2 separate regions of the Homo sapiens genome follow, and region 2 is linked to region 1. A link means that fine-mapping ties the variant in region 1 to the expression of a gene that starts in the linked region. Tissue or cell type: B cells. Region 1 holds a variant in brackets; the other region holds the start of a gene. All regions are shown on one strand. Distances are from middle to middle.

What was found. PIP is the estimated chance that this variant, and not a neighbour inherited with it, causes the effect.
Region 2: it holds the start of PIK3CD, and the variant in region 1 is fine-mapped to the expression of PIK3CD in B cells (Schmiedel 2018, PIP 0.94).

The regions. Positions count from the first base shown.
Region 1 is chr1:9,626,281-9,630,730 of GRCh38, reverse strand. It overlaps LOC105376712 (a long non-coding RNA gene), which reads left to right and starts at 1,304. Exons shown (of 2, transcript XR_946951.2): 1 at 1,304-1,507; 2 at 2,048-2,284. It also overlaps a transcript of PIK3CD not described here. RefSeq lists enhancers at 66-125, 156-205, 2,769-3,233, 4,421-4,450 and silencers at 706-815, 3,341-3,680. The variant T/C (reference allele first, on the strand shown) is at 2,277.
Region 2 is chr1:9,649,915-9,654,138 of GRCh38, reverse strand. PIK3CD (phosphatidylinositol-4,5-bisphosphate 3-kinase catalytic subunit delta) reads right to left here and starts at 2,408. Exons shown (of 24, transcript NM_005026.5): 1 at 2,337-2,408. PIK3CD-AS1 (PIK3CD antisense RNA 1) reads left to right here. Exons shown (of 2, transcript NR_027045.1): 2 at 96-1,529. RefSeq lists enhancers at 166-215, 1,356-1,425 and a silencer at 1,606-2,495.

The DNA.
Region 1 (4,450 bases):
CACACACACACACACACACACACTCACTTTCTTTGCTAACTACTCAGTAGAATTCGGGCCCAGCACAGATGTTACCTGCCTTGGCCCCCTTGCCCGAAGGGGCCCTTCATCATACTCCTGGCTATATCATCCCCTCCCAGCTCTTGGTCTACTCAACCATGATTGCCTATTCGCTCAGCTGCTCCTGGGAGCAGGGACTCTACATGGATCTGGACAGGCTCCTGGGCTGCTCCCCTGTGTCTGGCACCCAGAGGGCATCACCAGTGAGTCTGTAGAAATGCTGAATGAAGGAATACATGAGTGATGTGGTCATGAAGGGACAAGGTGATGCTTTGCCCAGGGGCCAGGGGGCTGTAGCCGAGGAAGAGAAAGGACAAGTGTCCACATCCTAGCCAGTGCAGGAACAGCCCCTTCACACCCTTCAAGGAGGGGCCTGACACCGAGTGACCCTGCAGTCCATGATCCAAGGCCTGACGGCCTCCGGGGGGTAGGGAGGCTAGACTCACCTGTCAGAGTGGTCCCTCTGCCCCTGGTATCACCAGACAGACGTGGGTCCAGCCTGGATCAGTCCAATCCCGGAGGCATTCTCAAGCCTAGGGAAAAATGCTGTTTTCAGAGTGAGGACCGCACTGAGGACTCCTCTGCTCCCCCCGTGGGCCAGCCCCCAGTCTCCCTAGCATCCTCAGCTACTCTGAGCTGGAGAGTGCAGAGTGCAAAGCACACTCCTCTCCCAACCTCGTGGTGTCCTGGGCGCCTCTGACCCCCGGGCTTCCTTCCCAGGCAGGCCTCCGCCTCCGCCCCCACTCCCCCCTCACCCCATGAAAGAGTAATGGCGCAAAATTCGTTGGGGAGAAAAACAGGAAGTGGAGAGCGAGGGTGCAGAAGTGCTCCCCAGCCCGTGCACCGCAGCCTTACGGGGAAGTGCTCAGGGGCGGTCCCGGCCCGACTGCAGGGGTGGGGGAGCCTTAGGGCGAGCTGGGAGTCCGGCGAGTACCCTGTGGCGAGGGGCTTTGTTTTAGACCGAACTTCACACCTGCACCCTGCCTCTGACATCTTAGCTCACCTTCTCCCAGCAGCTCCCCAAGGTTGAGACCATGACCCCATTTTACAGACAGGCAAGTGCGCTCAGAGAAGTGAAGTGACCTGGCCAAGGTCACACAGCCTTTCCCACGGCAGGGTCGTGGCTCCTCGATTCTTTCTCAGGCTTTGATTTCTATTTGTGGTATGTTTTTGTTCTAGGCCTCTGAGCGTGGTGGGTGGGGGCGGGGGTGGGGGGGCAGGGAGTGCTGTTTCTGGCTTCTCAGCACATCCTCATTCTCGGCTGGTGGTAAGAAAGGGGAGAGGGTCAGCTGCTGAGGACCGTCCTCCCCTGGGGGTTCCTGGAATGTGTGAGCTGGGAGGACAGGTGCCCCGGCCTCTTTCTCGGAGAAGAGGAGAAGGAGCCTGGGGGGAAGGCACCCCAGTGACAACCGCAGAGGGAGGGCACCAACCCCCAACACAAACTCAGGTAGGTGTGGCCTTGAAGCCCCAGGACTCAGAGCTTCAAGTGAGTTCAGACTCACCCTTTCCTCCCGGGGCCGCAACTCACAGCAGCCCCAGTCCTTAGAGGCGTCAGTGGCCCGAGACCCCCAGGGGAAGAGGTGACCTCAGGTGGCCTCACTGGGGTGACAGTGGGGAGAGAACCCGCTGAAAATACTCCCCACCCAGGCCCGCCCCTCACTTGGGTCATGAAGCCCCCTCGCCCTGCCTGCCCCAGGGCAGACCACAGACGGCAAACGGGGGCTTCTGGGGACCTTCCCATGGAGTTCCCACCGCCCAACCTTTTCCTTCCGAGGGTCCTGGGGGATCTGAGTCCTCGGGATCACCCTTACTGCCCAGTGTCTCCCTAGTCTTGACCGCAGCTCGTCTGTCCTTCACCACCCACTCCTCCTTCACCACCCACTCCTCCACCCTGGCCACCAGCTCTTCCCCTCCAGCTGCCTCTGGAAATCCCCCCAACATTCCACAGAGCCCTCAAACTCAACACACCTCCAACCAATCTCACCAGGGCCACCAACTCTGGGCCACCTCCGTGTGAGGAAGGCAAAGAAGGCAGTCTGCCCGGTCACTGAGGCTGAAACCTCAGAGCTGAGCTGTGGCCTCCACTCACCCACCACTGGCCCATCCTCCCTCCACGGCAGGGGCGCCTTTCCCAGAAGGCTCTGGCGTTGCTTAGACCACAGCGGAGGCCGGTGCTCAACTTTTAGAATTGCTGTTGGAAATAAATAATTCATATA[T/C]GTAAAAATGCTTATAATCGTGCCTGACACAGAGTGAACCCCCATAAAATGTGAGTGTTTGAGCTATCCTTCTAGTATATTCTAGAATGGCATCTTTGGGCTTTGTGAGACTGGATGTTTCTGCGCTAAGAGTATTTTTCTTTCTTTCTTTTTGAGATGGAGTCTCACTCTGTCACCCAGGCTGGAGCGCAGTGGCACAATCTTGGCTCACTGCAACCTCCGCCTCCCAGATTCAAGCGATTTTCCTGCCTCAACCTCCCGAGTAGCTGGGGTTACAGGAATGCGCCACCACGCCCAGCTAATTTTTGTATTTTCGTAGAGACAGGGTTTCACCATGTTGGCCAGGCTGGTCTCAAACTGGTGACCTCAGGTGATCCACTGGCCTCAGCCTCCCAAAGTGCTGGGACTACAGGCGTCTCGCTCTGTCGCCCAGGCTGGATCGCAGTGACGCGATCTCAGCTCACTGCAGCCTCAACCCCCTGGCTCCTGCGGGAGGTGCCATCTGCCTCCATGGTTCCTCCATTGTTCTCAGATCAACAGTGGGGCTCTGCCACCCGCGGCCTCTGTTCCCTGTAGCCGTGGGCTGCGGGGCTGCGGAACTAGAAACAAGAGGCCCCCTGGCCTTTAGCATCGAAGGCCCCTCCTCTCTCTACTGCCTTTGGGCAGCAGTCATCCCTCAGCACCAACAGCACCCGGGGCCAGCAGGGAAGGTGGCCGCGATAAGGGAGGCCTGGCCGCCCTTCCCTTTGTGCAGGAGACTCAGCCCCTGGTCCTCAGCCACCCCAACATCACAGGGAACTAGAATCATAAGTTAATATCTGTAAAGTGCCCAGAACCATGCCAGACCTGGATGAGAACTCAGTACACATGTTATCATCATCATCATCACCACTGTCACCTAATTTAATCCTTACAGCCGCCCTGTGAGATCAGCGTCATGCTCCCACTGACGGGCGCGAAGTCTGAGGTGGAGAGAGGCGAGGCCCACGCCTTCGTGCAGGCAGCTGCGCAGGGATTCAAACCCCAGCCTGTTGGATGCTCGTGCTCTCAGCCTCGTGCACGGGTTTCCATCTCCGCGGGTGTGAAGCCAGCTGTGGAGGTGCACACCTCTGTGCTGCCGCCACCCCTGCAGGAGGCAAAGAGGCCGCCACGGAGCCCGGGTGCCCGGAGCCTTAGGTCGCCCAGCCGGCGTCTCCCCCGGGCATCCGCTCCCCGACCTCGCGGCCTCCGGGTTGGGCGCCAGGGAAGCGCGCGGCGCCACCTGGTGGTGATGCCTGGCCAAGGCCACAGCCGCCTGCAACCCTCAGCCCCTGGCTCAGCGGCTCCCCCTGCTGCCCGCCCGGCGGCGCCGCGTGGTTTCCGCCGCACTCTCGGGACTGGGAAAGCGGAATTCACTTTCTCTCCTGCCCGCTTCCTCCAGGGATGGAGAAATGAGCGTAAACCCTGGCGCTGCTGGGGTCCTGGGGCAGGTACTGAGTCAGCAAAGCTCATTTTGTTGAAACTGTGTTTTGTGTCCCTCCAAACCTCCCATTTCTTTTTTTTTTTTTTTTTGAGACGGAGTCTCTCTCCGTCGCCCAGGCTGGAGTGCAATGCTGCGATCTCGGCTCACTGCAACGTCCACCTCCTGGGTTCAAGAGATCCTCCTGCCTCAGCCTCCTGAGTAGCTGGGATTACAGGCGTGCGCCACCACACCCAGCTAATTGTATTTTTAGCAGAGACGGGGTTTCACCATGTTGGCCAGGCTGGTCTTGAACTCCTGACCTCAGGTGATCCGCCCACGCCTCGTCCTCCCAAAGTGCTGAGATTACAGGCGTGAGCCACCGCGCCTGGCCTCCTTTCTTAATTCCTGCATTGCAAGTGGCAGATTGTTCTAGAGCTGCTTGCCGCAGCCTTGGTACTGGCAGCTCAGCCTGGAGCTCACCCTCCCTTCCTCCCTGCCCAGCTCTGCGACCCTGTGCCCCGGACCCCCTCTCCAGCAGCCTTGGGGGCGTCCCCACCCAGGCACTTGCAGGCCCCTGCAAACGGAATCTGCCCCAACCCGACTCCCTGGCCACCCGGATCTGCCCCTGGCTCACTCTTCCTTTCTGCTTCAGCGAAAGCTTATCCCCTCTCTCCTCTGTGGTCAAAGCAGAAATCCCCAACAGGGTTCACTTCTCTCTCTTGCCCGCAGCCTC
Region 2 (4,224 bases), 24 kb before region 1:
GGGCTCAGAAGGAGGCTAGCTTAGTTGTCTCTGGAGCAGGCAACTGGGTTGTTGTATTATGTTTCTCAGAGATGGGCTCTTGCTCTGTCACCCAGGCTGGAGCGCAGTGGCACTGTAATAGCTTACTGCAACCTTGAACTCCTGGCTTCAAGTGATCCTCCCGTCTGGGCCTCCCAAAGCACTGGGATGACAGGTATGAGCTACCGCTCTCAGCCACAACTGGGTTTTAAGAGCACTCCTCCAGCCCACTCCAGTGTCTTCCATCATTCTGTGAAAGCACCAAAAGAGGACCAAGCCCAGGAAGCCGCCAGCAGGCCTCTCACCAGCCAAGATGGCTGGAATCCTAATATCAAGAAATGAAACTCCAGCAGGCCATGGAAATGCTAAGGGGTTGGCATTTCTGCTCTAGAGAGAGCCAAAGAGAAAGCTCTATTTATATCTCCTTGCGTTTGGTCGCAGCCTCATCAACCAAAAGAACCTTCCGCCCCACTCAACACATCAATCAAATTGGGGAGGGGGTGTGAACAGCAGCAGCGGGTGTTACAGAGGAGTCTCAAGGGTATCTTAGAGGGTGCCTCTCTGAACAGTCGTCCCCTCCAAATCCCCCCCAAGAGAATTACTAGGACATTCTCCTTCCCCCGCAAGCAACGGCACCCCCAGATGATTAAACGCGCTGGCGTCGGAAAGAGCTGGGATCCTGGAGAAACTACTTGTAAACTGTGTGGGTTGGTGAGTTATTTAACTTTTCTGAGCCTTCGTTTCCTTAACTGTAAAATGAAGACAACACCACTCAGCTCCTACAGTTGTCCAGCTGAAATCACCTAGGTAAGAACGACCAGTTCTTTGGGGAGTAATGTCCCGATGGTACCATTCAATTGTCAAGAACACCAAGGCACCGTCAGGCACCCGGGCGGTATCCCACTCTCCTGGAAGAGAGCAGGGGGTTAGCCCTTGGTTTCAAAGTCCCTAGGGAGCAGTAAACCTTCCCCTCCGAGAGCCCTGAGAGAGGAATAATTGCCCCTTCCCACTCCAACCCACGGCACACCCGCCCACATCCACGTGCGGCTGTGCCCAGCATCTCAGAGGTAGGACTTCTCAGGAATCGGCGGGAAGAAGCCCCCTTGATGGAGTCTGGTGGGGTTCAAGATCTGCAGGTCCCACCTTCCAGGGAACACCTGCACAAGTGAGACCTGCCCGATCAGCCCCGCGCTCCATCCGCAAACTGGGCAGATCCCAAGGGTGCCACGCGAGGACCCTGCACCTTGGCCGCTCCAGGGCGCCCCCCACCCGCGACCCCGGAAATCTCGCCCCTACCTGCTTCACCCTCGCCCCACCCACAGCGCACTTTTCGGGACCTCCCAGCGGCCCTTCCCCGGTTCTCTGGACCCCCGTCTCCCCGCCCTGCAACGCCCCCATCCTGGTGCCCACGAAAGGTCGTCCCAGTTCCCCTCTTCTCTACCTCAAAGGAGGAGGTGCAAATGAGGAAGCCTAAATAAAAACAGGAAACTCGATTTTTTTAAAAAGCCTCATTCAGGCTGAATTACGGGTAAGAGTATTTTTTTAAAAAGTCCGGAAATGCAAAGCTGGGGGCGGTTTTGCCGGCGTAACCCCGGCTCGGCCGCAGATCCGGAGCTGATCTCGCCTGCGCCGCTGCAGCAAACGCGGCGAGCAACGCGGGAGGCCCGGGACTGGGAGGCGGGGCGCGGGTCCACGAGCCGGGAGGAAGCCCCGAAAACTTCCACCCCGGCCCCTCTGCAGCCCCGCTCCCCACTTGCCCAGGCTGGGAAGGGCGCACAGGACCCGGGCGCCGGCGAACTGTGCGCAGCCCTCTCTCCGCGCCAGGGCACTCGGGCGACATCACCAGCGCGCTCTCTGTGGACCCCGCTGCCGTACAGAGGAGGCCCCTGGTCCTCTAGTCAGCGCTCGGAGCGGGCGCACGCGCTGAGCGCTTCCAGTATCCTCGCGCCTCAGCCGGCGCACCGGAGGCCGCACCGCCGCTGTGAGCGCAGCTGAAACCCCGCTGCCGGGCCAGGCGGGCAAGGCGCGCAGTGCAGGCGCCGGGGAGCTGCGCACGCCCCTCTCGGCGGGCCCACGGGGGACGGCCCCGGGCCTCTAGGGCAGCCCCCGCCCAGGTCCCAGCAGCCCGGCCCCCGGGGCTCCCAGGACCCGGCTCGCTAGACTCGGGGAGGCGCCCAGGGCCAGGGCGCACGGGCTGTGTGTGCCGGAGAGACGCCCGCCAGCCAGCCCCGCGCCCCCGAGCGCAGCCGCAGCTCCCAAAGCCCCTGGCCGCGGTCCTCTTCCCACCTCCCCTGACGCAGCCAGCGGCGATCGCTTACCGTCCCGGCGCAGCTGGCAGGGCTGGGCGGCTCTGCTCGCGGCCGCTCGGAGCGACTGCGCTGGGCGCGAGTGAGCCTCGAGGGAGGGAGGCGGGGCGCGCCGGGGCGCCCCGCCTGCCGCCAACCCGCACACTCCACTTCCCACTTTGTTTCCTTTTCACTTGCAACAGGAAAAACAACAGGTCCTCCAGGGCCTCGCCTTCCCCCGCCGCCCACACTCCCCAGTTCGCCTACCGCTAGAGGGGCATCATCCCAGGTGCCTCTGGAAGCTGCACCTTGCTTGCCCTTCTACAAAACAAGTTTTCTTTTTATGCAAAGGAAAACAACGAAATAAAGGTCCTAGGCGCCTTTAAGCGCTCCGCCTTCACGCAGGAAAGAATTTCAGCAGGAGCGGGAGAAAGGCTGAGAGCAGGAGAAGAAGAGGGGGTAACCTGCAGCTCTAGGCACCCAGGGACCCCAAGCGCCATTGCGAGGTGACCAGTGTTGGGGCTCAGGACACACACCCAAAATGTGACTATGGGAGACCAGCGTGTGCCACCCCAAAATATACTTCTTCGCCATATTTTGAAGGGATTATTCTTAGAAACTGCAGGCACAGGAGTAGATCTGAAAAGCTGTCCTTTTGTAAAATGATTTCTATCTATAAAGAAAATCTCCAGGCCTGGCACTGTGGCTCACTCCTGCAATCCCAGCAATTTGGGAGGCCGAGGCGGGAGGATCACTTGAGCCCAGGAATTCAAGCCAGCCTGGGCAACATAGGGAAACCCCCGTCTCTACAAAAAAATTAAAAATTAGCCAGTCGTGGTGGTGCACACCTTGTAGTCCCAGCTACTCGGGAGGCTGAGGTGGGAGGATGGCTTGAGCCAGGGAAATGGAGGCTGCAGTGATCCATGATGGCACCACTGCACTCCAGCCTGGGAAACAAAGTGAGACCCTGTCTCAAAAACAGAAAAGAAAAGGAAAATCTCCATTGGTAAAGTATTAGTATCAGGCGGAGGGCTGCTCAGAGCTAACTTTTCTTACCTGAGAAATTTTATCCGCATAAGAAGACAAGCTTCATTCACCTTACCCTCTCTCCCCTCACTCTCCCTTAACTTGTGTACCACCTCCCCAGGATCCCAAGCCTCTATTCCTTTTTTTCTTTTCTTTTCTTTCTTTTTCTTTTTTCTTTTCTTTTTTTTGAGACAGTCTTGCTCTGTTGTCCAGGCTGGAATGCAGTGGTGCCATCTCGGCTCACTGCAATCTCTGCATCCTGGGTTCAAGCAATTCTCCTACCTCAGCCTCCCAAGTAGCTGGGATTACAGGCACACGCCACGACACCCAGCTGATTTTCATGTTTTTTTGTTTGTTTTTTGTTGTTTTGTTTCTTTGTTTTGTTTATTTTGAGGAATCTTGTTCTGTTGCCCAGGCTGGAGTGCAGTGGCGTGATCTTGGCTCACCACAGCCTCAGCCTCCTGGGTTCAAGCAATTCTCCTGCCTCAGCCTCCTGAGTAGCTGGGACTATAGGTGCACACCACCGTGCCTGGCTAATTTTTGTATTTTTAGTAGAGGTGGGGTTTCGCCATGTTCACCAGGCTGGTCTTGAACTCCTGACCTCATGATCCACCCGCCTCAGGCTCCCAAAGTGCTGGGATTACAGGCGTGAACCACCACACCTGACCCAAGCCCTATTCCTTTCTGAAGGAATGTTTCCTGTCCCTTGTAGGATGTTATATGAGCTTTATTCATCTGAGCCTTCATCCAGTCTTGTATTTTGTGGGATTCCCATGCATAGGTCTTAGTTACACATGGTTTTTCTCTTGTTAATCTGCCTTATGTAAATTTAATGTGGAGCCCAGCCAAGGAATTTAGAGGGTAGAGGGAGGCCACTCTCTCCTCCCCTACAGCA